6 separate regions of the Homo sapiens genome follow, and regions 1, 3, 4, 5 and 6 are each linked to region 2. Evidence: fine-mapped expression QTL. A gene starts in region 2. Each other region holds a variant in brackets. All regions are shown on one strand. Distances are between the middles of the regions.

The links.
Region 1: its variant is fine-mapped to the expression of APBA2 in whole blood (TOPMed, PIP 0.97).
Region 3: its variant is fine-mapped to the expression of APBA2 in whole blood (TOPMed, PIP above 0.99).
Region 4: its variant is fine-mapped to the expression of APBA2 in whole blood (TOPMed, PIP 0.98).
Region 5: its variant is fine-mapped to the expression of APBA2 in whole blood (TOPMed, PIP above 0.99).
Region 6: its variant is fine-mapped to the expression of APBA2 in whole blood (TOPMed, PIP above 0.99).

Annotation. Positions count from the first base shown.
Region 1 is chr15:28,949,589-28,954,969 of GRCh38, reverse strand. All of the region lies in intron 2 of APBA2 (amyloid beta precursor protein binding family A member 2), which reads right to left. Among named protein-coding and RNA genes, the nearest start is that of APBA2, 66 kb to the right of the region's middle. RefSeq lists enhancers at 1-84, 85-586. The variant G/A (reference allele first, on the strand shown) is at 3,123.
Region 2 is chr15:28,883,929-28,889,309 of GRCh38, reverse strand. APBA2 (amyloid beta precursor protein binding family A member 2) reads right to left here and starts at 3,336. Exons shown (of 15, transcript NM_001353788.2): 1 at 3,032-3,336.
Region 3 is chr15:28,928,936-28,934,316 of GRCh38, reverse strand. All of the region lies in intron 2 of APBA2 (amyloid beta precursor protein binding family A member 2), which reads right to left. Among named protein-coding and RNA genes, the nearest start is that of APBA2, 46 kb to the right of the region's middle. The variant C/T (reference allele first, on the strand shown) is at 2,621.
Region 4 is chr15:28,972,986-28,978,366 of GRCh38, reverse strand. All of the region lies in intron 2 of APBA2 (amyloid beta precursor protein binding family A member 2), which reads right to left. Among named protein-coding and RNA genes, the nearest start is that of APBA2, 90 kb to the right of the region's middle. The variant G/C (reference allele first, on the strand shown) is at 2,519.
Region 5 is chr15:29,007,055-29,012,435 of GRCh38, reverse strand. The region is part of intron 3 of APBA2 (amyloid beta precursor protein binding family A member 2); the gene reads right to left. Among named protein-coding and RNA genes, the nearest start is that of APBA2, 120 kb to the right of the region's middle. The variant C/T (reference allele first, on the strand shown) is at 2,254.
Region 6 is chr15:28,964,417-28,969,797 of GRCh38, reverse strand. The region is part of intron 2 of APBA2 (amyloid beta precursor protein binding family A member 2); the gene reads right to left. Among named protein-coding and RNA genes, the nearest start is that of APBA2, 81 kb to the right of the region's middle. The variant G/A (reference allele first, on the strand shown) is at 2,203.

The sequences.
Region 1 (5,381 bases), 66 kb before region 2:
CCAACCCTACCAGTCGGTGTCCACATGCACATGGCCCTGAGGGCCAGAGTGAGGGACCCTCCTGGACAGAAATCCACAGAGCACACACATGGTCACCAAGCAGTCAGGTGTTAGAAAGGTTCCCAGGTTTGGAGGATGCCAAAGCAGATGGGGAAAGAAATTCCCTGATTGTCCTCCAGGTGTGCCCAGGACTAGCAGGAGGCAGGTGAGAGGCCAGAGTGCAGCATGGCAGGAGGCCCTCACTCCTAGATGTCAACTGTGAATTTGCTGCAGCCTGACCGTGAGCGCCGTCTTCAAGAAGATGTCAGGACTGTGAGCCCAGGGCTGAAGAAGGCAGACCAAGCCCCCAACCCCCACAGGCTTCCTGTCTGGAGTGGCACAGACAACAATAAACAAATAAGCTACAGAATTAATGTGGGGGTGCCTGTGCATGGTGGGGGGTTACCAGCTCAGGGATGTGGGCCAGTACCAAAGTCCGCAGAAGCCACCTGCAGAAGGGAACGTTGGAACCAACACGAAGAAGGTGATAAAGTTATTAGCCAGGCAGGATTTTGCAGGATAGAGTTTTAAGAAATAAAGTCAGTTGAGGAGGGGCTTCCAGCATTTACTCTTAATGGGATGGCCAGGGAACGGAGAGCTCTGGTCGGAGGAGCATTCTCATTTAAGTTTGTATGCAATAAACCAGCTGCTGAGCAGACACAGACTTGGGTGGGAAGGTATGCAGTCAGTGTGGAAACAGGAACCATCAGGAAACTGGCACAGCAATCTAGCAAGGAGATGACAGGCTCTCATCGCACGGCAGCGGTGCCGGTGTGACCATGGGCAGCTTACGGAACAGATTCCATGTGGGGTTTAAGAGAGACAGGAGTCAAGGTTGGCTCCAAGTCTATGGTCTAGGTGTCCGGAAGCATGGAGCTGCCATTTACTGAGATGTGGAGATTGGGGTTGAGATGGCCAGGGACAGCTTGGTGCCTGTTGTGTGGGGACGTCAATTAGAACTCTAAGGGAAAGCGCTGGGTGAGCAACAGGGTGTACAGTCTGGAGGTCAGAAGAGAAATCAGAGCTAAAAGATAAATGTGAGCTCCTTGTGCCACAAGTCGGAATGAGGTCAACCATGGTGGGAGTGTGGACCGAGCGGAGAAGAGGGGCATGGACTGACCGCAGGGACACTCTGACACTCACGGGTCAGTAAGGGGACTGAGCAAAGTCCAGTGAAGCAGGAAGAAAATCCCAAGCACAGAGTGCCCCACAAGCCAAGGGAAGAAGGTGTTTCCTAGAGGGGACGACTGTGGCAAACACTGCTGGTCAGTCACATGGGAAGGGACCGAGAGCTGACCACTGGATCTGGAGACTTGGAGTCTTACAGATCTTGATCTCTAAGTGATGGGGTCAAAAGTGTCAGGAGAGGTGTCTGTGGAAGGGGCAAAAGTCCGACTGGAGCGGGTATAAGAGAGAACGGGAAGGGAGGAAATGGAGAAAGCCACTGCAGACAACTCTTTCCAGAAGTTCTACAGCAAAACAAAGCACAGAAATAGGCCAGCAGCAGGGGGTGGGGCGGGGGGAGTGGGAGCAAGAGACTTCTGTTCTCTTTCCTATGATGGGAGCGGAAGGCAGCTGTTTCAATGCTGAGTGTGAAGGCCAAGATCCCATGGACCACAGGCAATGCTGCTGGAGGGCAGCGTGAAGCTGAGAGGCAGCATCTGGTGCTAAAATAAGGAGGGGCTGACTTTTGAGCCAACTATACATTATTTCCAACTCGGGAGGAGAGGAGGATTCTGCACAAACGCTGGTAGGGAGTGATGAGGGGGTGGGAGTCTCAACCAGCCATATGGGTCCTCATTTCATCAAAACTCCTGGAGCCTGCAAAACCCAGATGGAGACTGGGATTCCAGGCTAAGGGAGACACCAGGACTTCCAGGTCCCAGGGAAGCAACAGGGTCACAGAGTAACCAACAAGACCCGCCTGTTCTTCCTTTTCCTGATGAATCTTGACATTTATGTCATACAAAGAGCATGGACTAGGGCTCTGAAGGTACAAATGTGAGTCGATCTCCATTAGCTGCTTGAAATTAGCAAAAATCACATCATTGCTCTACATTATCAGTTTCTCTATCTATACAATGGAGATAGTGACTCTTGCTTTTCTCAGGATTGCTAAGAAGATAAATACATGTAAAATGTCTCAGTTAATGAAAATTCAAGTTGTAGGAACACAGTAAGGTATCATTTCTACAAAGTTTGAAAATATCATAACAATGGGATATATCATTTAGGCATACATGCAGTGTAAAAATAAAACATGCCTCCAAAAAACAAACAGTAAATTCAATTTACTGGGTTTCACAGGGGTGGCTGGGGAGGCATGCTCATGGAAGGCTGAATCATATTTGTACATGTCTTAAACTGGATAGCAGGTACCCCAGATACTCCTTTTTTCTTAAACAGAGTCTTGGTCTGTTAGCCAGGATGGAATGCAGTGGTATAATCATGGCTCACTGCAGCCTCAACTTCCCAGGCTCAAGTGATCCTCTTGCCTCTGCCTCCCACGGAGGTGGGACCACTGGTGCGCGTCACCACACCTGGCTTTTTTTTTTAATTTTTTTGTAGAGACAAGGTCACTCTATGCTACCCAGACTGTTCTTGAACTCCTGGGCTCAAGCAATCCTCCTGCCTCAGGCTCTCAAAGTCATTCCTCTTATTATTCTCTGTATTTGTGTATACTTGGAAAATATTCTTTAAGCCTTCCAAGTCTTTTTTGTTGTTGCTGCTCCTGTCTACACAGTAAGTTGTCCAAGTTTTCCTTTCTACTATGTGACACGTGGTCATGGTTCCCATGAGTGATCAGAAGGCTAGGTCCAGGGCTTCGCCGCCAGATGGGGTCGTGCATTCAAAAAAAAGCTATGGGACACAAAAATTAGCCAGGCGTGGTGGTGCATGCCTATAATCCCAGCTACTCAGGAGGCTGAGGCAAGAGAATCCCTTGAACCCATGAGGTGGAGATTACAGTGAGACAAGATTGTGCCATTCACTCCAGCTTGAGCAACAGAGGGAGACTCTGTCTTAAAAAAAAAAAAAAAAAAAAAAAAAAGGCTGAGTGCAGTGGGCTCACGCCTGTAATCCCA[G/A]CACTTTGGGAGGCCAAGGCGGATGGATCATGAGGTCAAGAGATCAAGACCATCCTGGCCAACATGGTGAAACTCTGTCTACTAAAAGTACAAAAATTAGCTGGGTGTGGTGGCACACGCCTGTAGTCCCAGCTACTAGGGAGGCTGAGGCGGGAAAGTTGCTTGAATTTGGGAGGCGGAGGTTGCAGTGAGTGGAGATCGTGCCACTGCACTCCAGCCTGGCAACAGAGCAAGGCTTTGTCTCAAAAAATAAAAAAATAAAAAAAAACTATGGGAGATACATATGTATACACAGATTAGCATACATGCATATTTCCTAGCTCTGTCTGCTGAGAGGGCCTGGAAGCAATGTACCTCGGTGACAAGAAGAACCCTGTCTCCAGACCTTGGTTTCTAGATACCATTCTTCAATAAAATAAGGCAGGGATCCTTGCAGAAATAGCTGAGTCCAGGACTGGGTAGGAAAAATTCAAGATGAGCCTGAGTATCTTGTGCCAGAAAGAGGTACAGTTTTCTTTGGGTATCTGTAAGGGATTGGTTATCTAGGCCCCCCTGTAGATACCATAATCCTCAATGCTCAAGTCCCTTCTATAAAATGGTGTAGAATCTGCATATAACCTATGCACATTCTTCAATATATTTTAAATCCTTTCTAGATTATTTATAATACCTAGTACAATGTAAATGCTATATAAATCGTTGTTATACTGTATTGTTTAAGGAATGATGACAAGACAAAAAGTCTGTTCAGTAGAGATGCAACCATCTATTTTTCTCCCAGATATTTCCCATCTAAGGTTGGTTGAATCCACAGATGCAGAACTCACGGATATGGCCAACTGACTGTACTCAAAAAAACAAAAAGGTAGGGATCTCTCTAAGGGACATGGGATGCCACCTGAAAGAGCTTCATATAGTCAAAGCTGGGACAGTTTGAGCAATAAAATAAATAACACAGCACTGGATTATAAAGCAAGGTATAAATTATATATCCACAAATCCATATTGATGTAAATGTTTGAATAAATAAATGGGGGAGAATAGATAAGTCCCCCATACAGAAATATTCCAAATAATTTATACAGATATCCCCACCCCCCATGAAGGAGTGGAGTGTAACTCCACATTCCTTAAGCATGGGCTCTGCACATCGACCTCCTTCCAGGGAGGACTATGGAAAGAAGGTGGGGTAATCTTTTTTTGCTTTCTTTTTTTTTTTTTGAGACAGAATCTCACTCTGTCGCCTAGGGTGGAGTGCAGTGGCGTGATCTCAGCTCACTGCAAGCTCTGCCTCCTGGGTTCACGCCATTCTCCTGCCTCAGTCTCCCAAGTAGCTGGGACTACAGGTGCCCACCACCACGCCTGGCTAATTTTTTGTATTTTTAATAGAGACGGGGTTTCACCATGTTAGCCAAGATGGTCTCGATCTCCTGACCTCATGATCCACCCACTCGGCCTCCCAAAGTGCTGGGATTACAGGCATGAGCCACCGCACCCCGCTGAAGGTGGGGTAATCTTACAGTGAGCAACTGGCACATGCTACCTCAGCCAGCTGATCGGGGTCAACATCGATAGTTATGAGTCATATTGATATCATGCAACATTGATGTATGTTGAAAATGGTGCTTCGCTTCTGTGGTTTTCCTCCCCCAAACCCATAACTCCAGTCTAACCATGAGAAGAACAGCAGATAAACCCAAATCGAAGGATATTCACAAAGACCTGTACTCTTGAAAACTATCAAGGTCATTAAAAACAAGGAAAGCTGAAAAACTGTCACAGACCAGAGGAGGCTAAGGAGACGCAAGGACTATAGGTAACGTAGTGGCCTGGACAGGCTCCTGGGACAGAAAAAAAACATTAAGCAAAAACTAAGGAAATTGGAATAAACTGCAGAGTTTAGTTCATAGCAATGGACCCACGTTGGTTCCTCAGTTATGCCAAATGCACCGTGTGATGTAAGATGTTAACGAGAGAGAAGACTGGAGGAAGCAAGCATGGGAATTCTCTGCAGTCTTTGCAACTTTTTTATAACTTTAAAGCTGTTCTAGAATTAAAAGTTTACTAACAACAACAAGAGGCCGGGTGTGGTAACTCACGCCTGAAATCCCAGCACTTTGGGAGGTGGAGGCATGAGGATCACTTGAGCCCAGGAGTTCGAGAACAGTCTGGGCAATACAGTGAGACCCCGTTTCTACAAAACATTTAAAAATTAGCCAGGCATGGTGGTGCTCACCTGAAGTCCCATCTAATTGGGAG
Region 2 (5,381 bases):
CAGAGTGAGCCTGGCTGCATGATCTTGAGGTCACCTACCTCCCAGGGCTCCCTTGTGTGTCTGGACAGGGAGAGAGGGGAAGATTGGCTTCAGGGGAGGCGAGAAAAGACGGTGCCCACGACAGCTGACTCAGCCTGTGCCAGCAGGCTGCTCTGAGACACGAGCTGGACCCAACCCAGGCGGTGGGCGGCAGGGGGTTGGGGAGGAACTCTGGGAAACGAAGGAGCCAGAGAAGCCTCCCTGTGGGCACTCGGGCCAACCACCACCCAAGGGAACAAAGAGCACCCCCAGCCCCCGCTGGGCACACAGGCTGCCTCCTGGTGAGCAACCCTCTCAAACTTCACCCCCAGCCCCCACCGGGCACACAGGCTGCCTCCTGGTGAGCAACCATCTCAAACTTGACCTACATCGGGGAGGCCTGCCTGGTGGTCAGTGGCTACCTTACATCCTACCTGTGCCTCCACGTTCCCAGTCCTCACAGCCACCTGGCAAGGGTGAGGAACTGAGACTGCATGGGGAGGGCACGCAGCCTGTGAGTGATACAGCCAGGACCGCCCGCCACCCAGGCCCAGAGCTCTCTCCACTCTCCCCATTCTCTAAGGACCAGGCTGCAAGGCAGGGCATGTGATCTCTGCCGAAGACATTCGAGCCACCCAGTGATGTGTGCTGGGTCTCGATCCCCACCGACCGCCAGTCCTCTCCTCCCCTGGACAGTAAAGGTTTCTCCACGACTTCGGACCATGGTGTCACCTGAGGCCCACACCTGTTGAGTCACCGGGGCAGGTATGCGTGGCAGAGGACAGCCAGGAGCGCCGGAGAGGAGCTGAGGCCTCGAGGGGGTCTCTGAAGCCAGGCTCAACCCCCACTCTCCCCACTCCAACAGCCCTCACCACAGCCACCGCCGCCCAATCCAAACAAAGCCCAGCCTGATGCCAACCTCACCATCAACTGTTTTTCCTCTGACTTCCTCAGTTTTGTCTAGGAAAAATCAAGGTGTCTTATCACCCCTCTCAGCTTCCAGGGGTGTGATCAGTGTCTTTTACAATTATCTCTTATTTTTATCCAGTATTTCTTAGCTCAGTTGGCAAACTAGGTATTTATGCACCTCCATTTCACAATCCATCCCCACCAATTATGCCTGTAAAACTAACATTTTGTTGAAAAAAAGAGGTTAGAACTACTTAAAAAGGTTTTGTAAACAAGTTAACTAGCAGGCCACAACTTGAGTCTAGGGTGTCAGAGAAAACATGCAAGGTGGAAGAGAATGAGGAGCTGACGGTCACCAGTTTCACCTCCTTCCAGCGCCCACCCAACTCTCCTGCTCACACACACTCACACCCCGTGGGACTCAGCCTGCAGCTCCTCCCATCCCAGGAGCCCAGGAGACCGGCAGTAGGGAGGGGCACAGACCACACTTCCTAATAAATAAGAGGGAAGACTCGGTGCCCCATCGCTAATGCCATCACCCAGTCCCAGCCCAGCCATGGAGCCCACTCCAAGGGCCCCCCTGACAGTGCTGCTAGAGCCCACCGAGGGAAGGCTGCCGGCACACAGCCACAAGCTCCAGCTTTACCCACTCACGCCCTGGACATTGCCTGGAGCCCCAGCGTTCCAGGTCCGTGTCACCCTGGCCCTCCTGCCTGGCAGATCCTAAGCTCAGGAGACCCTCTCCAGCCCAGGCTGCAGGGGGAAGCAGCCCCCACGGTCACCCAGGAATCAGCACAGAGGGCAGGGCATCCTGGACGCCCTGGACTGGGAAACCCAGATCCTGTCCCCTGCGTAGTGGCGACACACAGGAGAAACCCCTGCCTCACCTCATTGGAGGGACCCTGACCCAGAGGCCTGAGAAAAAGCCACCTGCAGGCTCCTGGCACCTGCCAACCTGCACCTTAGGAAAACTCGTCCCACTTCAACCTGCAAAGCTCTCGGGTCATTATTTCTAAAATCACTGTCCTTTCTCAAAGAGGAAGGAAAACAGAAAAATAAAACAAAAACAAAAACAGAAAGAGGCACAGGAGGTTGAAGAGGCCAGAGGCAGTTTAGCCCAAAAACAGTGCCAGACGCAAGATGCCGAGTTCGGGGTGCCTCACCCTCCACATGCCCATTTAGGAGCTGACTGCACTCAACCACAGATTTATGTCTGGTGCCTGCCAGGTCGTATCTGAATAGATCTGAAAAATTAAGCCTTCCTTCTGCCAGTAAATACGAAGTTAAGACTAGCAGGCCCCTCTAAGGCTCTGCTCTCCACGGCGGTCCTCGGCAGGCGTCGGAGAAAGGAAGTTCGCCCCCTCCCCGCCTGGGCACACCGAGGCCCGCTGCCCGGCCCATGGCGCCCTGCTTGGGGACCGGGGGCCTCGATGTTCTCCTTCACCATCTGCAGCCAGATCTCCCGCCAGCAGCCTTGCCAGGCAGTGCCTGCCATGGGGAAGGGGCCAGGCCGAGGGGCAGGTCCGCGCCGTGCCCCCAACCGGGCACCTGCAGCCCAGGAGCAACGGGGTGTGGGGTTTTGAATTGATAAGTTTTCCCCTCTGGGCCTTATTATAAAGGGAAAGGGAAGGGGGCGAAGATCTGGGCTTGGGTTCTCTGGGGGCAGCGAACCCAGAGGCGACCCCAAACTCAGTAGTTGCCGCCCGGCACGGGGACTTGATGCCGGTGCCAAGCAGCCCGGCCAGCCCGGCAGGAGTCGAGCGGACAGCCCCGCCACACAGCGCCTCTTGTCCGCGCCGGGTGGCCCCTTGCCGCGGTGCCCCCCGCGCGGGATGCGAGAGCCGCCGCCTGGTCCCCGCCCCGCCCGCCCACCCGTCGTGGGAGGGGGAAGCGGCCGGTCAGAGAGGAGTGGGGCCGCCGGGCTGTACCCCCATATCCCAGCGGCGGCCGCCCCGCAGCCACGCTGAGTCGGGAGGGCAGCGCTCTGGAGCGCTCGGGCCGCAACCTCCGCGCCGCCCCCCACGCGTCCGGGTCCTCGCGGCGCCCCGGGCGGCCCCAGGCTGCCGCCGCCGGCAAGTCAGGCAGCCCAGGTTCCCCAGCTTACCTGGCCAGGGCGCTGGGCTGCCCGGGTACGCCGCCGTCCCCGCCCCGCTGCCGCCGGCTCAGTCCGCGAGGCCGAGCTCTTTGTGAGCCCGCGCCGAGCCGCACACCGCGACTGCTAATGAGCCCGGGAAGCTGAATAGCTTCCCGAATAGCGGCGGGCGCGCCCCGGACGCAGCGTACGGCACGCAGGGCCGCCTCTGCCGGGCGCACGCGGCGCGGCTGCGGGGCGCATCCCGCACCGGCCTGCGGCTGCCGGGCCTGCGCCCCCGCCCCGGCCGCTTCCGCCTCACCCGCGCCGGGCACACTGGGGCCGGAAAACGATTCCCGGCTAGATCGCGCGCCGTGAAGAGAGGGAAGACAAAGATGCGTCCGTGCCGGGCGTGCGCGAGGTCCTGCGCCCCCTGGCCCCGGCGCTGGGACAGTCTGCAGGGCAGGAGGGTGCACTCGGGACCCCGGGTCCCCCCGGGCCGGTCTCCGGGATCGGGGCTGGGACCCAGGCGCTGGAAGGCGCGGCGCCCCGAACGCCCCGGGCCCTGGGGAGCACACAGATTCCCGGGCGTGCCCCGGCCGTGCTGGCTGGGGAGCTGCAGGGGTCTGGTCCCGCAGGTAGAGCCAGTGAACGCGAGGCTCCGCAGGTAGAGCCGGTGAACGCGAGGCTCCGCACCTTGCCCCGGCCGCCGCGCCCTGCTTGCTCGGCCCCGCGCAGCTGTAATGGGGGACCCTAGAGCGAAGAACCCTCGAGCGAAGAACTCTCGGGGATCGCGGCCTCCGAAGGCCCCATCCGGCAGAGGAGGCCCCCTGCTGCCTCCCCACCGCAGCTCCCCTAGGCGCATGCTGGACTCCCAAGTCTTCCCTGGCGGTCCCCGGTAACCATCCCAGCACCCCGTTTCTGATACTCTGTGCTGCTTTAGCCCCCAGCCCCAGGGCCTCACTCCAGGGCTTTCTCTCCTTGCTGTCCTAAATGGAGAGAACCCTGACCTCCGCGGGGCCCTGGGGAGCGTACACTCCTAGACACTCACATGCATCCCCAGGGGAGCCAGTCTTCCGCCCCTACAGCGCGAGAAATGCCCTGGAGGCCCTCGAAGGTCGTGCTGGAGACTCCGGTGTCACCTTTGGCCCTCTGGCCCTTTCACTGAGTCCCAGGCAGATGTGATGAGCCATGGGAGATGCACAGGATGCCTTGTCTGGGCAGAGCGGGGGCTCAGGGGCCTCCCTCCCCCCAAATCGTGGTGATTTGCCCTCGTTTTCTTTTCTCCTGTGGCTGGATTAGGCGAAGCTGTGGCATGGGAAGTTCTGCCCAGGTCAGAAGGCACAGAAGGGCAGGGGGACTTGGGAGTGAGGACAGCGCATCTTCCTGCTGCCCTGAGGGCCCGAGCTGAGACCCTAAGGAGAAGGGGCTGGGGGAAGCCGAATCCTGAGATGGACTAGGGTTAGATACACTGTGGACTTGGCCTCTCCACACCCTGCCCCCACCAAACATTCACAGGTTTCCAGGGCCAGAGCCGCCAGTGGGGGCTGCTCCTGGTAGGGGAGCTTTGTAGCCACAGGGCCAAACAAAGGGGCAAAGGCCAGGGCAGGCCAACGAGGTTCCTGACCTATGCCCCTCCGTACTCAGATGAGCACACCTTCACTGTCTACTTTCCACCTGCATAGACATTCTGCTTACCTGGCTAACACAAAGTTCATCCAGCCTCCTGTGGCCCAGCCTTTCACCAATGCCAATAGTGGGAAGCAACAATTAAGAAGAAGTGATTCTGAGAAGATAAATGCAGTCATCTTCTTGCCTTACTGTTATGTGGTCACATCCCATAGGAAACCAGACACCTGTGCCTGAAGCTGATCCACACAACACCCCCCACCTCCTCAAACCCCCACCCCCATCTGTGTGAACGTGTGTGGGCCGGTAAGTTGCATGCTGTTCCTTCAACAGCCTCCCTTGAGATCTTCCCATGAGCAGGCTCTGGGCCAGTCACTGGAAATTAAACCCCATCGCAGCACCCGGGAGTGATAGTGGCTGAAGTCCTCAGTCCACAAGATGAAAGGTATAGGCCTAGGGCCAAGAACAGTGGCTCCCACCTATAATCCCAATACTTTGGGAAGCTGAAGCAGGAGGCTCGCTTGAGCCCAGGAGTTCAAGACTGCAGTGAGTTGTGATCGTGCCACTGCACTCCAGCCTTGGTGACAGAACAAGACCCTATCATTTTAAAAAATGAAATAAATTAAATAAATTTAAAAATAAAGGTACAGGCCTGCCCCCAGCCTCACTCAGGACTCCTAAATCTGGTGAGCTTGAGCCAACTGCCAGTATTCAGAGAATTTTTGAAGAATCATTAGGACAAACAGTTAGTGCA
Region 3 (5,381 bases), 45 kb before region 2:
TGCAGACAGGAGTCCACAGCTGCTTGTCCTGCCTCCCACCCCAAACCATTCCCCACACTCACAATCATACACAGCAAGCTCCACTGAGTCCCTCCTGGCTCCAAAGCCTGCAGTGGCACCGGCCCCAGGACATAGGACACAGTCCAAGCTCTTCACTCTGTTCCCAAGGCTGTGGAGGGCTGGCTGGCCTGTGAGTCCTGCTCTCCTCCACCCCCGTCTCTTCTCCCCAGCCCCCTCTTCACAGGTTTAGAGACCAGGCGGAAGGAGCTGCCCACTCCATGCCTTGTTTTCCCGTGTGCAAGCTGCTCTCTCTGCCTGGAACCACCCCCACCTCCAGCCCATGCCCCCCTTTCTCCTGGGCTGCCTCTACTCCTGCAGCCTCGGCACACAGTCACTTCTTCCTGGAACTTCCCCAGGCCCTCTGCTCCGCCCATGTGGGCAGCCCCTCCTTGCGCTCCAGCATCAAACCCCAGATAGTGGACTCTTTGAGGGGAGGAGCTGTGCCTGTCATTATTCTACCCTCAGTCCCTGCTGGGCCTGGCACAAGGCAGAGGGGATAGAGGTGCTCTGGAGAAAACTGCTCCACAGGCCAAGCACGCAACCTGTCGGGCTCCAGCAGGCCCTGACTTTGGACCAATAAAACCTCAGGTCGAGGACTTCGCTCCTAACTCAATGATAAGGTCTGAAAATCCGAGCCAGTGTGGGCTTGCCATTGCTCCTACAACTGTCTTTACTAGCAGACTGTGAGCCCCACACTCTCTTTCAAAGAGCAGGACATTTGTTTGAAGGGAGTCTTATTCCATTCAGGGTACTCTCACAAAATACCATAAACTGGGTAGATTATACATGACAGAAAGTGGCTTGTCTCAGTTCAGGAGGCTGGGAAGTCCAAGACCAGAGAGCCAGCAGATTCCGTGCCTGGTGAGTACCTGCGTGATGGCTCAGAGACGGCAGCTTCTCACTCTGTCCTCACATGGTGGAGGGCGGGAGGCTCTCTCTGCAGCCTCTTTTAAAACGGCATTGATCCCATTATGAGGGCTTCACCATCAGGACCTGATCACCCACTGCTATAGTTGGAATGTGCCCCCCCAAAGTTCATGTGTTGGAAACCTAATCCCCGATGCAACAATGTTGAGAAGTGAGACCTTTAAGAGGTGATTAGGTCCTGAAAGCTCTACCCTCATGAATGTATTAATGCCATTATCGCGAGAGTGGGTTAGTGACTGAGGAGCAGGTTCCTAATAAAACAATGAGTTTGGCCCCCTTCCCTCTCTCGCTCACTATATGATGCCTTCCACCATGTTAGGACGCAGCAAGAAGGCCCTCAGCAGATGCAACCCTCAACCTTGGACTTCCCAGCCCCTAGAACTCTGAGCCAAATAATGTTCTGTTCATTATAAATTACCCAATCTGTGGTATTCTGTTTCAGCAGCAGAATACAGATTAAGACACCTCCATAAGGCCCCATCTCCTTGGGAATGTGAATTCCAATGTCTCCCTCCCAAAGGTCCCATCACTTTGGGGATAAGAATTCCAAAATATGGATTTGGTGGAACACAAGCATCAGATCACAGCAAAGAACCCCTCATTTTCATTCCCTCAGGAGCCACGATGGGACCTGGCTTTAAACAATCCACTATCACAATAGGCAGCACTGACCACTAAGGCCACACAGGTCACTTCTGCTGGCGAGATGGGACCAACCCCCTATGGGGCCGTCCACCATCTCCACTGTCAGGGAACCCTGGCTGTCCTGCCACAGGCTTTGCAGGAGGCTAAGCCACTGTGGACGTTGCTTTTACTGCCCTGGTGGATAAAAAGCATGGCAGAAGCCCATGGGTGTCTCTGAGACTGCAGCACTAGGCCCACCTGCATTGTCACATCCTGCATGTGCTCAGAGGAGAGGGTCTCTAAACACCATGGGGCTGTGCTCCAGGGAGGGCTGCCTTCTGGGTTTTAAACCCTACCCCACTGCAAGGGATGGGTACCTCATGGCACTGCACTACAGTACAGAAGCCAGCACCCCATGCTGTGGACTGCAGGGGTGCTCCAGGTGCCCCCCTCAGCTCTCCAGGGTTCAGAAAAACCTGCTCCCTGGTGAATGTGAACCTCTCTTCTGCCAGCATGAGGGTCTGCTCCACCCTGTCACCCTCCTACCCCTCATCTCATTGGCTGGCTCCCTTCCCCTCCCAAGGACATCTTACCAAAGCAGAGACAGTGATCCTGACACCAGGTCGGTCTAGGCAACTGTGGCCTGTGTGGCCGTATCCCCTGGGATGCAGCAGCACAGAAAGGAGGGCTAGACTCAGCTGCAGCCATGCCCAGACCCAGTTGGGAGGGCTGTGTGCTGTAGATCCTGTCCTGGATGCCCCTCTGCCAGGCCAAGGCTCACACGCAGGGACCTTTCTCCACTTGAACGTCTGTGCATTGTAATATAACTTCCCAAAATATTACTCTGCAATTATTTCCAAAGACTTAAATGGGATCTCCAAATACGTACAATTAAGACTAAAATTGTAATTTTAAATTACTGATAATTTGAATAAACATAAAACTTTCCTATCTCTAAGCCAAATGCAGACAATAACATCCCAATTAACCCTTAGGTACTGCCAAACTC[C/T]GGAAAACAACCACTTTGGACTCTCAGAGGGAGAAACAACTCCTGAACTACATGGAGCCTGGCAACAGACTCTGGAAATAGTCATGATCTTCCACCTGTGCAAAGCCAGATGCTTCCCCGGCTGGACCCTATGGAGCAGCGCTGCCTTGCTAAAAGGGCAGTGGATGTTTGGGCCCACGGTGGCAACAGCACCAGGTCCCAGTGAACAGGGGAGAAGGACGCAAGGTCATCCCTCATCAGTCCCACTTTGCTAGGGGATGGGGGCACAGGAGGCAGTGGCGTGAGACTCCCTCTGAGTCTCAGCGGCTTTAGTTAGCTCTGGAACCTCCTTGTGGCCTCCCATTCCCAGGCCCCCGCTAAGATCCAGGAGCTACAGGGGGACCGACTGGAGTAGTCTCTCACCAGAGGCCACCAGCAGCGGGATGAGATGTTCATGTAAGCTGTCCTGCTGCCCTGAGGGCCAGGAGAGGTGACAAGCACGCCTGCATCCCACATCAACAGATGCTCCCAGCTCCCCACCCCAGCATGGTTTCTGGCCTACGGGGTACCAGAAGAGGAGCAGGGACTTTCCGTGAAGGGCTGTGCCTCATGGAGGGGGCTGGGGAGGTGGCTTCACCATGATTCCCAAACAGGGCTTCTAGCAGACCCCTAGGATAGCTGTACCGAGTCCCCAATGTCTGCGGACGCGGCACCCGAGTTTCCTGAGAATCCAGAGGCAGGAGGCCATGACCAGAGCTGCCTCACAGGGGAAGAGGAGGAGCTGCCCAAGGAGGAGCTGCCTGCTGCTCCCACCAGTGTGGGGCCAGCCTGGGGCCGCCTTGAAGGAACAGCCCAGGAGCACTCCCGAGGGGCATGGTGGAGGATAGGGAGAGCAGTCAAGGGCATCAGCCCAGCAAGGCCTCCCACAGGTCGCAGGGAAGAGCTGCAAGTTCCCAGCAGGGTCATCTCTAAGAAACCTACCCGAGGGTCACTGGAGACAGGAAGTCCAAGTGAAACATCTGCTGGACCCCAGAAGTGCCACCCAGCCCACTTGTGGAGAGAATGCCCTCTCCCCAGACACTCCATCCCTCGGAACACTCCCTGGCCAGCAAAAACAGAGGCAAAGAAAGAAAGAAGGAGACACACAGCCCTCCCTCCCCAGCCGGCTCCAAGACAGGTCAGGCTCCAGCCGGGTGGGAGAAGCTCCAAAGAGTCTATAATTACTCCTTTTCATGACTGACCAACAATGTTCCTGGGACTGAAAGTAACCAAAGAACCTTCTATTGCCTTAGAACGACAGAAAGCTCCAGGGCCTGCCTGGAATGTTCATTTGAGCAGAAAAAGAGCTCACCCCCAGGGCAGGCTCAGAGGGACCACGAGGGTGAAGATGCTCATGTCTATCCTGCTCCCATCGTGGAGAGCTCAGCGCCCACCCAGATGGACCTTATGGTCCTTATGACTTCTGAGGGGAAGTCAAGCCTGAAACTGGGCCTTCTTCTGGAAACAGCCCTAGCAGCAGCAGGGACCACCACAATGCAGCCCTGCCAGCCCATTCCCACCTATACTGGCGGGGGCTGGAGGGTTGGGGGGCTGCACTGTCAGGGAGGGACGGGAGACATAGCTTTTGCCCCCCTTCCACCTCCCCAACTCAGCTCCTTCCACCTTTTCCTACCTGTTTTTATAGAGATGCGAATGGGCCAGTTTTACCCTCTAGGTAAATAACTGCTCAACAGCTTTGAGGATGGGCAGAAGCAACCTTTCCTTTAGTAGGTGGGTGGCAGATCTACACTTCCTCATACAAGAACTGTGGTCTTTAGGAATACATATTCTCCCTCCCCTTGACGGAATTAGGAAAGTAATACTTTTTACACTTGAAATTAAGAGCAGAACAGATGGTGATGGTTTAGAAATCTGTTCATAAGAACTGATGCTGGCAGTGGGACCATCAACAAGACATGGATAATGGGGGCAAATTGGTTTATTGCAATGTGCACCCAAGTCCCACTACTGCAATCCGAAAAGCCAAATACTGAGAATGGGGGACAGGTATGGACAGAAGGTTTAGCCACAGTAAGAGGGCAAAACAACTAGCAACGCGGAAGTGACCACAGAAAAACCCCCTTCTTCTTGTGTGTCGCCTGGGCCAACGCTGTTGCCCCAGGGAAGCCTGGGCGCCAGCACCATACAAAGTGCCATGCTAAAGACAGCCCATCAGCTCCCAGTGATAGGCGGGAAGTGCTACACCCTTGGATCTGAGTGGTCACTCCTCTATTTGTTGAGGACATCTGGGAGCCTCCCATTGGCAGCATCACTCATGTGTGTCGCAAATTCACTGAAACCACAAGGCACGAGAAATCCTACGGATTAGCAGCCACCCATAGCCAGGTGGCTTGGCCTCGTTATTTATCCCTTTCGGTGTATTCATTCAGAATGTGCCAGGCTGTCTTGTGGGTGCAAGGACGCAAGGGAACACTGACACTCCAGTTCCCTGGAGCTTATGTCCTAATTAGGAAGACAGATGACAACTGAGTAAACCATCAAATAACAAACATGATTCCCGGTTAGGGTAACAGGAAAATCAAAGCAGGGGAAGGATTGGAGTTTCCGCTCCAACACGTAAAGAACTTGGAAGTCATCACTCCCATCCTCATGACTAGAAAATGGTGCACAAACTGAAAATCAATGACCTTCTTTGGACTCATCAGTGAATTGAGTTTGCAACCCGCCCCCCTGAAATCTAGAGACACAGCCAAATCCAAAGATCCACTGACCTGGAACAGAG
Region 4 (5,381 bases), 89 kb before region 2:
GATGACCAAGGGCATCTTCTCATAGTCATCTGTGACAATGAAGGCAAACGCTGCTGTGTGGAGGAGCCAAGTTGCAGGGCCAGGCTCACGGATCATGCGGCTTATGGCTTCTGCACTGCAACATGGTAACAGCAAACTGGGAAGCGACATGAATGAGCTGCTGGGTGTCCAGACCTTCCTTTGGCAAACGCCCAAGAGGGACAGGGCCCTCATCTTGTAGTGAGAGGAAAGCTGGAAACAGAGAGAGGGAGAATGGAAACTAATCCATCCGAGCCACGGTACACCAGTCTTTTGCCTAAGCCCTCACCACACCCCTTTGAGAGATTGTTTGGTTTTCCCCATGTTTGGCTTTGGACAATAGATGCAGCCTATCTGCACACACAGCCCCTGAGTGGCAGAGCTGGGATTTGAACCGAGGCCTGCCTGAGTCCACAGCCCAAGCTGTTCACTACCTTTCAACTGAGGATGGGCGCAGATAGGTATGTGGGTCCAACTGCTCCACACCCGACTGTATGGGAGAGACACAACAGCCAGTCAGTAGGGTTCTCACTCCTGTGAGAACCTCAGCATTTCTGTACTAGGCAATGAGGTACCTTCTGGAAAGGCTGTGTGCCTGTCACATACGAGAGCAGGAAGGTAGGCCCAGACATGTACACATTGGGAGGGTGGCTCACTTTCCGCAAATTCGGAATGCTTCAGGAGGTTTATGTGCTGGACAGAGGTCACCCAGAGGAACTGGAAGCAGCACCAGGCACCCTAGCAGCTGAGCATGACTCATGTGTTCATCTTACTGGCAGGATGGCATGGGGCTGAATCACAGCCAATGGAATCAGGAAATTCCCATCTCAGCCAACCCCAGTCATGAGAAACCTCCTTCTAAAATGCTGTTAGAGGCCAGGAACAAGGCTGGGGGATGACTATTCATTCACTTAGGAAAATCTTGGGGGTGGGGTTCTGCTAAGGGCTGAATGTGCTCCTCCCAAATTCAGAGGTTGAAGCCTAATCCTTAATGTGATGCTATTATAATGTGGGGCCTTTGGGAAGAAATTAGGCCCTCATGAATGGGAATGAGAAGAAAAGTCACGAGAGAGATGCTCTCTCTCTCCCCGATGTGAGAGCACAGGAAGAAGGCAGCCATCTGCAAACCAAGCAGAGGGCCCTCACCAGGAATCACCAGCCCCTTGACGTTAGACTTCCCAGCCTTCAGAACTGTGAGGAATGAATGTGTGTTCTCTAAACTAATCTATGATATTTTTGTTATAGCAGCCTGAACTAAGGCTCACATACTCACAAGAAAGAAGAAAAATGGTAGTGTTGAAGGAAGCCAACTGATGAGGTAAGGTTTATTTCCTCATTGTGAATAGACTTTAAATGTTAAGGAAATTTAATTAGTCACTTGAAATCTGGCCACTAGTAATGCACTGGAACCAGAAGGTGTCACAGGTAAGTTTTAACAATACCATTGAGGAACATATCACCTCAGTCTTATATTAATTGCTCTCCAAAAGAGAAAAGGATGAGATGCTGAATGTTATGGGTCTAATATAATCTCCACACTAAAACCAATGAAAGGCAGAATAAGAAAGGTAAATTATAGGCCAAACTCATTTATAAACAGGTGAAAAAACATCCTAAATAAAGTATTAGCCAAGTGAACCCAGCAATTTTTAAGAGACATATCATGATGAAATACAGGTTTATCCCAGGCATGTCAACTTGGTGTAATATTAGAAAAGCTATTGTCGCAATCACATAATTCATCACATTAACAGATCATCTCAATTGATGCCCAAAAACCATTTCATAAAGTTCAACATGCATTCACAATTAAAGGGAGAAAAAACTCCTAGCAAATTAGGACCAGAAGGAGACTTCCTTAACAAAGTGAGGATCTACCACAAGTCCACAGCAAACTCCACACCTCATGGTGGACCATTAGAGATGGCCCTACAAGAAGGAATAAGACAAGAATTTGCAGTATAACTGCTTCTGCTTAACACTGTTCTGTCACTCCCAACCACAGAAGTAAGAAAACAAAAAGAAATTAAAGGATGAAGATTGCAATGGATGAATGAAAGCCAACTGTCATTACATGCAGGAGACATACTGTCCATAGAGAAAAGCCCCAAGCTGCTCTTCAGACTGTTAAGCAAGGTTGCTGGATACCAGGTCAAAACACAAACTCAACAAAGGTCATTTCCAGAGGGCTGCCACTGGGACAGTAGCCAAAATTTCATACCTGGGAATCAATTTAATGTAAAAATGGAAGACCTCTATAGAAACATATCTGTTACTTTATTGAAAGACATAAAAGAGGACCTATTAATTTAAGATCTCCATATGCCATGAGCATGTTTGGATTTGGAGTATTGTCTTCCAGGTAAATTCAGGAAGGAGGCATGGCTGAGTCAGGGTCTATGCAGGTGCACCAAGTCCCAAGGCATCCTGTTTCCTCCAGGGGTGGAGCAATCTGAATGGCTGCTCCACAGCCTCGCCAATAGAGGGCGCCATCAAACTT[G/C]TATTGTTTTGTTTTGAGTTTTTTCCTCTCTGCCAATATGGCCCATGAGAAATGGTATCTTGTTATAATCTATATTTTGAAGGAATTAGCTTTGTGATATAAGATGCAAATATTTTCTACTGGTTTATTACCTGGCTTTTTCACTTTGCTTATGGTGTCCCTCCCCCATCATGCGAAAGCAGTTTTGTTTTGTTTTTTTCCTAATGCAACCAAATTTCTCAATCTTTTTTACATTGCTTTTGGATTTTGAATCATAATTTTCCCTACCCACAGGTTATTTTAAAATTTACCCATGTTTTCTTGTGGTAGTTTTTCTGGTAACTACCTATTTAGAGACATTTGAAATGTATGCTTGTAGATGATGAAAGATATCGACAAAATTTTATCTTTTTCCAAATGGCTATCCAGTTGTCTCAAAACCATTTTTAAAGGGTTCTCTCTAATACTGTTTTACTTAGGCATTTTACATCAATATTCCTAAGTGAGATTGGTGTGTGGTTTTCTCATTGAATAATCTTAAGGTTTCTTTTTCTATGTTCTAGAATAATTTAAGTAGCATTGAGATATCTGTTCTTTGAAGATTTGATAGAATTCTCCTGTGAAAATATAGATTTGAATTTTTTTCCAGTAGGAATTTTTTTTTAAAACTTTCTGTGTCTACTGGGGTCAATCTGAATAAATTATATTTTCCTAAAGAAGTTCCCTTTCTATCCAGGTCTTCACACTTACTTGCAAAGCACTATACAAAGTAAGCTTTTAATGATTTTTTTAAATATGCTCTGTTCTGTTAATGTCATTTCTTATTCTGTGTTGTTTGGGGTCTCTCTCTCTCCCCTTCATGATTAGCTTAGACAGAGGTTTGTCCACTTGATTCTTTTTCTAGGATGTAGTATTTTGTGTATTTATCAGTTTCATTTTTTTCTCATTCCTAAAACTCATGAATTTCCAATCTTACTCTTATTTTTTGTCATTCTACTCTAAGTTTATTTGGCTATTTTTATCTATCATTTTTAGTTAGATGATAAATCCATTAATTCGTTTGGTTTCATTTCTGAGGTTATAACCACAGCTTTATGTGTATTCCACAGAGTGATATATTTTAATTATCGTCAAATTCAAAAATTATGCACTTGGTTTGTGTATTTCCTTTCACCTAAAAACTTATTTAATAGAGTTTAATCTTGTAACTCTTCAAATTGAAGGGCCTTTTTGGTTTTTAATCTTATGATTAATTTTTAGTTTTATTGCATTGTGAGCACAGAATGTTGTTTGTATTATTTCTGTTACGGAACTCATTGAGGTTGTCTTTGTAAGCTAATATATGTCAACTTTCCTAAGTGTTCCAAGTAGTCTCGAAACAAAGTTGTATTCCCTATTATCACAGCACAAAGTCTGGTACATTTGGAGGCGTATGTTTTGGTCCCCTTCACATGTCTCAGGCTGAGCAAGGCAGTCACAATGTCCTGGAACTGCGTGTCCCTCATGTCTCCCCACCGCCCCTGTGGTTTCCGCATCGTAGAGGTTCTGGTGATGTTATGTGAAGCAGACATAACCACACCTAGTGTATCTTCTCTGCAAATTGCAGCCTTTAGCATTGACAGCGGCCCTCTTTGTTTCCATTAATGCTTTTGGCCTGATACTAGCTTGGCTGCAGTCAGGATTAAAACTCCCAAGCTCTTTTTCTCTCTTCATTGCTATACACCCTCCTGTCATTTTCAGCCTTCCTGGATCACTGTGTTTTGGATATGACTTCTTTATACAGCATAGAGTTGGGTGCCACTATGTGAACCAATCTGAAAATCAGTCTTGCCTTTTAATAAATGGGTTAAATCCACTCTAATTTACTGATGCGGCTGCTAGGTTTGGTCTCAGTTCTATTCTTTAGTGTTATATTGACCGTGTGTATTTCACTATATGGTTTGTTTGCTTCTTTAAAAGTTGTTTTGTTTTGTTTTTGCATTTCTTTGGGTATTTAAGGTCTATATTTTTGTTTCAGTGGTCATTCTTGTATACCAAACAATGTTACCACTTTCCTACCTGCAGGGCAATCAATGAGCTGATTCTCTGTTCCTCTTTTGCTCTTCCTACTCCAACTATTATTTTTATTCATTATTTCTATTTTGTCAGAATATATAACATTTATAGCCATTCCTCCATACTTATCCCTACCTTTCTTTCGGTCATACATATACAATTTTTTTTAAACATTTTAAAATACTTGTTTAAGTGTAAAAATACTATCAGTGCCTTCGCCAAAGTTTCCCACATCATCTTTTCATTGGATGAAGCCTGTCCCCTGCTATGTGGCATACATAATGTGGCTAATTTTTAACACCTTCATCCTCTATGTGACAACAGTGTTTTCAGTAATTATCACATAATAACCAGTAATAATCACTATTTCCTTAACTGGATCTGTAATTTTAAAAACCATGGACAATTTTAAAAGATGAATTTCAGTCCTAATGGTACAGCTCATATTCAGTAAAATATTTCATGTGTCAACTACAAGTTGCACCAATCAAACAAAAATATCCAATCTCATCATCTGTGCTCTTACTCTTCAAATTTTACACACCAATAAAAACCTCTAGTGTTCACATAGAATGACAGAATTGAAGAAATCCAAGTTCTGTTTCTTTGTCTTTACCTATTGTGATATCACTGGTTATTCCTAATCTGCTATCCAAACAGAGGAATACACAGGGTCACAGGAGTCCGGACCTCAATGGAGTTTGCATGATTCTGGATTGCTACAAACTTCCTCTCAAAATAAACACATGTGCCTCAGTCTGCAGATGTCAGGGGCTGATCGTATACTTGGGAGTTCTCCAAATTAAATGCCATGTAGAATATAATGTTT
Region 5 (5,381 bases), 120 kb before region 2:
TAAGAATGGCACTTTTTCAGATGGGATCTTCTGCCCCAAAGCCCATAGCCCCTATTGAACCATGAGAAAAATGCCAAGCACACTCAAATTTAAAGATATTCTATAGAATACCTGACCACTACTCTTCAAAATTGTCAAGGTCATCAGAAACAAGGAAAGTCAGAGGAACTGTCACAGTCTAAAAGAACCTAAAGCGACATAATAACTGAACTCAAAGCAGTCTCCTAATAGAATCCTGGAACAGCAAAAGGACATTTGATAAAAACTAAGAAAATGTGAATGAAGTATGGACTTCAGTTAATAATAATGCATTGGCACTGGTTCATTAATTGTAACAAATGTACCATACTAATGTGAGATGTTAACAACAGGGAAAAGTAGGTACAGGATGTATGGGAACTCTCTACTATCTTCGCAACATCTCTGTGAATCTAAAACTATTCTAAAGCAGTAAGTTAAAAAAGAAAGTTTATATACCTATATTGGTAATTAGACAAACTAGATTTTACGAAAAGCAGCATTCTTATGGAAAAGAAAGAATTCATAATTAAAAAGGGCAACCTACTAGGAATAAATTCTAAATTTATATGTATCTAGTTAAATGCACTCAAAATTTATAAAGGGAGAATTGACAGGACTATAATAAGACAAATCTAAAGTATTAGACATTATGAAATTTATGTCTATTAGACACAGACATTATGAGCAGCTGGATAATTTAACACACTTCTTTCAGTAAATGATATAACAAAGAAGTAAAAATAAGAATGGAAATATAAGATTTGAACACCACAATTACCCATTTTTCCTCATGAATATATCGAAAGTACTGAACTGAGGAACTACACACAAGGGCACATGGGATAGTCTGTCAAAATTAATCATATGGTGGACAAGTCTAAAGCCAGTGTAAACAAATTTCAAAATGTTAACATTGTAAATAATCTGTTCCTGACTACGGGGTAAGCAAGCTAGAAATAAATAACAAAAATATAACCAGAAAATATGGAGGCATTTGGAAATCAACTACTTTAAAATAACCCACATTTCAAAGGAGAAATTTTAAAAAGTGAACAGATTTTGAACTAATTAATAATAAAAATACAACGTATCCAAAAATGGTGCTGGACAGCCAGCCATGTTCACAGCAGCACTATTCATCATGGCCAAGGAATAAAAGCAACCCAATGTCTATCGATGGATGATGGATAAACAAAATGTGGTCTATTCATACCACATAATATTATTCAGCCTTAAAAAGGGAGAAAATCTTATCACACAACCCAGCACAGATGAACCTTGAGGACACTGTACTAAGCAAAATAAGCCAGTCACAAAAAGACAGAAACTGTAGGATTCCACTTGAGGTACCTAGAGTAGTCGGAAAGTAGAATGGTGGCTCCCAGAGGCTGGGGCAAGGAGAATGAGAAGTTGCTGTTTAATGGGTATAGATGTTCAGATTCGCAAGATGAAAAAGTTCTAGAGATCTGCTTCACAACATTATGAATTTACTTAACACTACCGAACTGTACACTTAAAAATGGTTAAGATGGTAAATTTTATGCTGTGTTTTTTTACTACAATTTTTAAAAATAGTGGATTACAGCTAAAGCAGGCTTAATAGGCTATTTATAACCCTAAAATCATATATTAGAAAACAAGAATGGCTGGAAAAAATAAATATGCTGTTGTTTTCATGTTCTTAGGTATGCATAGATTTCCTAAACAGGGCACAAAAAGCATTAACCTTAAAGGAAAAGATTGATAATCTGGGCCTTCTCATCAAAAGATACCACTGAACGTGAGAAAGTGTGAGAAAATATTTGTAATATGTACATCTAGCAAAGGTCTCAGGTACTAACTATATAAAGAACTCCCGGCCGGGTGTGGTGGCTCGCACCTGTAATCCCAGCACTTTGGGAGGCCGAGTTGGGCGGATCACGAGGTCAGGAGATCGAGACTATCCTGGCTAACACGGTGAAACCCCGTCTCTACTAAAAAATACAAAAAATTAGCCGGGCTGGTGGCGGGCGCCTGTAGTCCTACCTACTTGGGAGGCTGAGGCAGGAGAAGGGCGTGAACCCACGAGGCGAAGCTTACAGTGAGCTGAGATCGCACCACTGCACTCAAGCCTGGGCGACAGAGCGAGACTCCATCTCATAAAACAAAAAAAGAACTCCTACAAAGCACTAAGAAAGAAAATGCAACAGAAAAATGAGCAAAAACTTGCACAAAAACTTCAAGAGAAGGTTT[C/T]GAAAAGCACAAGACAAGTATTCGAAAGAGATATTCAACAGTCTTCAGTGAACTGAAAATCATACCAGAGGATCCCACCATGCATCCACTAAAAATCAAATTAAAATGACTAACACCACCAGTTATGAGCAAGGATGTGGAGCAAATGAAACTCCTATTTGCAGGTGGGAGTGTAATTGGGTACAATCACGTCAGAAAAAGGACTGGCAGTGTTCACTAAAATAGAAACATACCCAGACCCTGTGACCTACCCATTCCAATCCTGGATGTACCCTCAATAGAAATGCAATCATGTGTACAACAAATGTGTAACAGTGTTCCCAGCAGCAATCATGACCCAAAACTAGAAAAGATGCAAATGTCCATCAAACATAGAATGGATGAATTATTTGTATTTTTACAATGCTCTGTAACAGTGAGTCAATGAACTACTGTCACACCACCTGTGAGTGACTCTCACAAACATAATGTTGCATAAAATAAGCTGACATAAAACAGTATATATTGTAGAAATTCATTTATTTAAAAAAAAATTCAAACATTTGCAAAAATAACATTTGGTGCTAGGATTCTGATTACCTTTAGGTGGTGGTGGTAGTGGTCGGGGGTGGGTTATGGCTGGGAGAGGACCCTAGGGGAGATTCTTGGGTTGTGGTGATGTTTTGTTTCCTAGTCTGGATGGTAGTTTCATGGATGTGTTCACTTTGAAAATATTCATGGTAATAAACACTTAGGATTTTTGTACTTTTCTGTTTATATTACACTTGAATTAAGAAGCTTATTTTAAAATAAGTGGCTTATCATTTGCACACTGTTCAATTCAAAACAGACTTCAAAAAGGTGACTGTCCAAAGCTTCCTCCCACTTTAGTCTCCATGAACAACTCCAGGTGCGCGTTCTGAGGGTGTGGATTGTTACAGTGAGGGGAGGGGGTGCAATGTGCTATGAGACTAGAAAAGGCACCATATCTTGGGCAGGGGCTCGTCTTTTTAGAGTCTTTCCTCAGATTCTGCTTTGAACCCCAAGCTCTGCCTGCTGTCATGGTACTGTAAACACTGCCCTAACTTCTGTGAGTCAGATTTTCTGATGCCTTCTCAGTAGGATACTTTGGTGCACTAGGGGATCCAAGGCTCTTGGGGAGGATCCCCATGTTAGTATCACATTCCATAGTCCAGCATCTGGGAGGAAGAGCCTGCCGGCTTCTCTCCCCTGCACATACACACCCTCTGTCCTGGTTAACTCACACTAGAGAACAGCTTCCCACCTGGCCATACTGAAAGAACAGAAACATAGTTTCAATTACCTTTGTCAGAGAGAACAGGAGAGGTGAGGGAATGGAAACCAACTCCCAGAGAATGGTGGGAAGGCAGACACTCAGGGGCACGAATGACTGTGGGTAGAATTCATATGTATGGAGTGTCCCTGTGACTGGCTCTGTGCTTTTATTTTTTTATTTGTTTTTTGTTGTTGTTCTGAGATGGGATCTCGCTCTGTTACCTAGGCTGGAATGCAGTGATATGATCACAGCTCACTGCAGCCTCGAACTTCCAGGCTCAAAGGACCCTCCCACTTCAGCCTCCTGAGTAGCTAGGACACCTAGCTAATCTGTTATTTTAATTCTATGTAGAGATGGGAGTCTCCCAGTGTTGCCCAGGCTGGTCTCGAACTCCTGGACTCAAGTGATCCTGCCATCTATGCTTTCAATAACAACATTCAGTGTGTGTTTTACTAGATATGGTGTTGAGTCCTTTCCGTTGTAAGAAAAAAAAATTGTGGTAAAATACACGTAACATAAATTTACCATTGGAAGCCTTTTTAAGAATACAGCTTAGTGACACTAAGTACATTCACACTGCTGTGCTACCATCATGACCATCCATCTCCAGAACTCTTTTCACTTTGTAAAACTGAACCTCTGTCCTAATTAAACACTAACCCCCTTCCCTCTCCTTCTAGCCCCTGGCAACCACCATTCTACTTTCTGTCTCCATGAATTTGACTATTCTGAGTACCTCATGTCAGTGGAACCACACAGGATCTGTGCTATTCTATCTGGCTTCCTTCATTTAGCATAATGACCTCAAGGTTCAAGGTTCATCCATGTTATAGCATGTGTCAGAATTTCCTTCCTTTTCAAGGCAAAATAATATTCCATTCTATGTATACACCACATTTTGTTGATCCATTCATCTGCCAATGGACTCCTGGGTTGCTTCCACCCCTTGACTATTGTGAATCATGCTGCATGAACATGAATGTACAGATATTTCCTTGAGCCCCTGCTTTTACTTCCCTTGGGCATATGCCCAGAAGTGAAACCACGCCTAGATTCCACGGCAATTCTATTTTCAATTTTTTGAGGAACTGTCATACTGTTTTCCGACGGGCTGCACCATTTACATTCCCACCTAAAGTGCACAAGGGTTCCAATTCTGCCACATCCTCACAGACACTTATTTTCTGTTTTGTTTTGTTTTGTAATAGCCGGCCTAATAGATATGAGGTGGTATCTTGTGATTTCGACTTGCAATTCTCTAACGATTTGTGATGCTGAGCATGTTTTTCTGTGTTTACTGGCCATGTGTCTATCTTCTGTGGAGAAATGTTTATTCAAGCCCTTTGTTCGTTTGTTAATCAGGTGGCTTCTTTTTATGTTAAATTCTAAGAATTCTTCACACATTCTGGCTATTAACCCTTTATCAGATGTATGAATTACAAAGATTTCCGTCCATTCCTTGGGTTGCCTTTTCACTGCTGACTGTGTCCTTTGAGGAAGTTTTTATATTAGATGAAGTCCAACTTACCTATCTTTTCCTGTTGCTGCCTGTGCCTTTGGTGTCACATCCAAGAAGTCACTACCAAATCCAATGTCATGAAGTTGTGCACCTGTTTTCTTCTGAGTTTTATGGTCTCAGCTCTTATGTTCAGGTCTTTGATCTATTTTGAGTTGATTTTTGTATTCTCTTGTGTTGTTTTTATATTGTTTTCAGTTTTTCCAACACCATTTGAAGAAACTATCCTTTCCCCACTGAATGACCTTGAAATCCTTGTCAAAAAATCATTTGCCCATATATGTCAGGGTTTACTTGGGGGCTGTCTACTCAATTCCTTTCGTCTGTATGTCTGTC
Region 6 (5,381 bases), 80 kb before region 2:
GAATCTGCCACTCAGCCCCCGCACAGAATTTTGTCAGCTTTTGGCCCCTTCAATCCTCAGTCTCCTCACCAGTCCTGGCGGCAACAGGACCCTCGGGCAGCAAACCTCCCAGAGGCCACCTCCAACTCCGGACACCTTGCCAAAGCCCTTTCTGCTCGGCCGAGGGGTCGGGAACTGACAGTCACATGTGACACAGCAGGACACCTGCTGATCAGGGAGGGGCATGTTTCAAAACACTCTGTGTGTCCTTCTATCTTTACACTGAGAGCCCACACAGAATTCCAGGTTATCTCCTTTTTATTTGAAATGAAAGGTTAAGGCCCGGTGCAGTGGCTCACACCTGTAATCCCAGCACTTTGGGAGGCCAAGGTGGGCAGATTACCTGAGGTCAGGAGTTCGAGACCAGCCTGGCCTATAGGTGAAACCCCATCTCTACTAAAAACACAAAAATTAGCCAGGCTTGGTGGTGCATGCATGTAATCCCAGCTACTTGTGAGGCTGAGGCAGGAGAATCGCTTGAGCCCGCGAGACGGAGGTTGCAGTGAGCCGAGATTGTGCCACTGGATCCAGCCTGGCCGGCAGAGAGAGACTGTCTCAAAAATAAAAAATAAAAAAAAGAAAGAAAGAAAGAAAGAAAGAAAGAAAGAAAGAAAGAAAGAAAGAAAGAAAAAGAAATGAAAGGTAAGGTTTTTGTAGACAGGGTCTCCCTATGTTGCGCAGACTGATCTCTAACTCCTGAGCTCCGATGATCCTCCTGCCTTGACTTCCGAGAGTGCTGGCATTACAGGGGTGAGCCACTGTGGCTGACCCTTAAGACTTTTTGACAACCATGATTACCTCCAGAAAAAAAAAGAGTAGCCTATTTAAGACACTCAAGGATTTCCTGTCCAGCAAAGCGTTCAAGAATGAAGGGCAAGAGACAGCCGTGTTTATGTTTATATGGAGTCACCACATCTTCCCATCCTCCCTCTGCACGTGTCTGCTTCCGCATTTCCTCTTCTTGGAAGTACGCTGGGCATGCTGGATTAGGGCCTGCCCTAATGACCTCATTTTGCTTTGATAAGCTCTGTAAAGACCATTTCTCCAAATAAGGGCAGGTTCTGAGATGCTGGAGCTTAAGACTTCAACAAATGAATTTTGGGGAGACACAATTTTACCCAAAACAGGGGCATTGAGCATCAACAGCTGCCTGCTCACAAAAAGATGGGTGAACAGACATAGAGCACTTCCTCTAATCCTGCGAAAGAGACGGAACCAAGTCCAGCAAAGGTACTGGATCCAGCTGCCAATGTGCAGGAGAGAGAGGACAAAGGGACACGCTGAACTTCACCAGGAGTGCACCCATCCAAAATAAGAAGGGAGATGTTCCACAGGTCAAATGCCTCAAAGTCTTCCACACGTGTTTGTAAGGAAAAGACAGGGACAGATAGTATAGCAGTTCCCCCCAAAATTAAAAACATAAATTACCACATCATTCAGCAATCCCACTTCTGAGTATACACCCAAAAGAATGAAAAGCAGGGTCTATCTCCAAGAGATTATTTGCACACTCATGCTCATAGCAACATTATTCACAGTCCCCAAAACGTGGAAACAACCCAAGTGTCCATCATGGATGAATGGATAAACAAAATGTGGTCTACACATACGGTGGAGTATTATTCAGCCTTCACAGGCAAGGGAATTCTGACACTTACTACAACGTTGCGAGAACACTATGCTAAGGGAAAGAAGTCAGTCACGCACAAAAATATTGTAGGATTCCACTTACGTGAGGTACCTGGAAGAGTCAAATTCACAGCCAGAAAGTAGAATGGTGGTTGCCAGGGGGTGTGAAAAGAGGGGAATGGACAATTACTGCTTAATGAGTGCAGAGGTTAAATTTTGGGAAGATGAAATCATTCTGGAGATGAGTGGTGGTGATAGCTGGACAACAATGTCAATGTCCTTAACGTCACTGACCTGTACACCTAAACAATGCTTAAGATGATACATTTGTATGTATCTCTTGCCACAATTAAGAACTAAAAATTAAAATACATTTTAAAAATAAAGAAAGGGGCCGGGCGCGGAGGCTCACACCTATAATCCTAGCACTTTGGGAGGCCGAGGCGGGTGGATCATGAGGTTAGGAGATCGAGACCATCCTGGCTAACACGGTGAAACCCCATCTCTACTAAAAATACAAAAAATTAGCCGGGC[G/A]TGGTGGCAGGTGTCTGTAGTCCCAGCTACTTGGGAGGCTGAGGCAGGAGAATGGTGTGAACCCGGGAGGCGGAGCTTGCAGTGGGCCAAGATCGTGCCACTGCACTCCAGCCTAGGTGACAGAGCGAGACTCCATCTCAAAATAAATAAATAAATAAAAATAAAGGGATGGAGAGAGGAACCTGAAATTTATAAAACACTTGAAAAGACTATCAACTTCTAGTTCCAGAGCAAGATGATATAGACTGCTTTTCCTTCTCCCCTCTATCACATGCAAAAAGCCAGACTTACAATTTTATTACATTAGATTGTGGTTATGATTCAAAACTCTGTGAATACACTAAAAACCACTGAATTGTACAGTTTAAAGGTATGAGTTACATGGTATGTGAATTATGACTCAATAAATTTGCTATCAAAAAAAAGAAATGAAGGAGAAATTAAGATATTCTCAGGAGAAGAGAAGCTAAAGAATTTATTACTAGCAGACCAACCTTTAAAGAAGGGCTAAAGAAATGTCTTCAAACAGAAAAAGAGACTAACAGAAGAAGACTAGACTGTCCTTCACCTCATGAGGTTCTTTAATCATACTTTAAGTTGAAGCAAAAGTTATTATGTCATACGATAAGGTACTCAGTGGATACGGAGGAAATACTTAAGACAATTATATTTAAAAAGTAGTGAGGGTAAAGGGTCCAAAGTGGTAAAACTCTGACACCAGTAGGCTGACATAATATTTACAGCAATCATAAAGAACACTATCCAAAGCCGTACATTCAAACACAGTATAAATAAGGAAATGTGGGACTCTAAAAAATGTTTGTCACCATAGGAAGGCAAGGAAAAAGAAACAGAGGAATGAGAAAGAGAAGGAAAAAAATCATAAAATGCAGACTTAAACCCTAGCAAGTCAATAATCATTTTAAATATAAATGGTCTAACTACATCAAATAACAGACATTGGCAGAATGGATTTAAAAAATAACCTACAAGCTACCTACAAGAAACTCATTTCAAACATAACAACATGGGTAGACTGAAAGTAAAGGATGGGAAAAGACATGTCATGCCAACACTAATCATGAGAAAGCAAAAGTGGCTATATTAATATCCAGGCAGACTTCAGAGTAAAGAAACTAAATAAAGACAAGGAATAATATTACATAATAATAAAATGCCCAGCCTACCAAGAACATACAGAAATTCTAAATGCGTACCCCCCAGACCACAAAACACATACAGCAAAAACAAATCTTGCCAAGAGAAAAATCGACAAATTCACAATAATATTTGGGGATGTCAGTACCCACTCTGAGCAACTGACACAACTACTGGACAGAAGATCAGCAAAGATACAGAAGTGTGCAACACCATCCAACAAAAAGATCAAATTGACATTTATAGAAAATTCAACCCAAAAACTGCAGAATACACATTCTTTTCAATTGTCCATGGAACATACACTCAGATAGACCATATCCTGGGTCACAAAAAAAAGCCTTAATAAATTCAAAAAAATTAAAATCATGCAGAATATGTTGACCAAAATGGACTCCAACTAGAAATCAATGACAAAAAAACTACAGGAAAATCTCCAAATACTTGGAAATTAACCAACACACTTCTAACTAATCCATAGGTCAAAGGGGAAATCTCAAGGGAAATTTTAAACTATATAGAACTGCACTAAAATGACAACACGACATACCAAGTTGGTAGGATGCAGCTCAGACAGTGCTGAGAGGAAAACATATAGTTCAGTAAGGTTTCAGGGTACAAGATCAACATTCAAAAACTGATTGCATGTCTATACACTAATAACAAAGAAGTGGAAATCAAGACTGTTAAATGCAACACCATTTAAAGTTGCTCTAAAGATAACAAGAAGATACTTATGAATATATCTAACAAAATATGTACAGGATCTATATAAAATAAAAATTACAAAATGACAAGGAAGGAAATCAAAGACCTAAATACTGAAGAGACATACTCATGGACTGGAACGCTCAACATAGTTAAAAGGTCGATTCTGCCTAAATTGACTGACAGGCTTAACAAAAGTCCTGTCAAACTTTGTAAGGTATTTTGTAGATGCAAACAAACTTATTCTAAAATTTATTAGAAAGAGAAAAGCCTGAGAATAGCCAAATAACTTTGAAAAAGGAGAATAAAATTGGGGAAATCACCCTGCCTGATATTAAGGCTTCCTACAGAGATATAGTAATCAAGACAGTGTGATATAGGCAAAGGGAGAGACACAGAGATCAAATGGAATGGAGTAGAGAGCCCAGGAAAAATGATCCCTACAAATATGCCCAACTGATTTGTCACAAGGAGCAAAAGTAATTCCATGAAGGAGGGACAGCCTTTTCAATTAATGGCGCTGGAGTATTTGCACATCTATAGGCAAAAAAAGAAAAAAGAAATTTGACATAAATTTCATACCTTATACAAAAACTAACGCAAAATGAATCAAGGACTTAAATATAAAACTATAAGACATGTAGAAAAAAAAAATCAAAGGAAAGAGCTTTGGGACCTTAATGATTAGGCAAAGAGTTCCTAGACATACACCAAACACAATATCCATAAAAGGAAAAAATTTGATAAAACTTTGACCTCCTCAAAATTAAAAACTTTCATTCTGTCAAGGGTCAAGTTAAGATAACAGAAAAAAAAATTATACTCTGGGAGAAATTATTTGCAAATCACGTACCTAACAAAGGACTTGTATCTAGAATATATAAACAGCCCTTAAAACTCAACAATTAAAAAAAAAATCTAATTAGAAAATGAGCAAAAGTGGGCCAGGTGCGGTGGCTCATGCCTGTAATCCCAGCACTTTCGGAGGCCGAGGTGGGCTGATCACCTGAGGTCAGGAGTTCAAGACCAGCCTGGCCAACATGGTGAAACCCCATCTCTACTAAAAATACAAAAATTAGCCAGGCGTGGTGGCAGGCGCCTGTAATCCCAGCTACTCGGGAGGCTGAGGCAGGAGAATCACTTGAATCTAGGAGGCGGAGGTTGCAGTGAGCCAAGTTCGTGCCACTGCACTACAGCCTGGAAGACAAGAGCAAGACTTCGTCTCAAAAAAAAAAAAAAAATGAGCAAAAGTGATGAACAGATATTTCACCCGTGAAGATACACAGATGGCAAATAATCATATGAAAAGATCC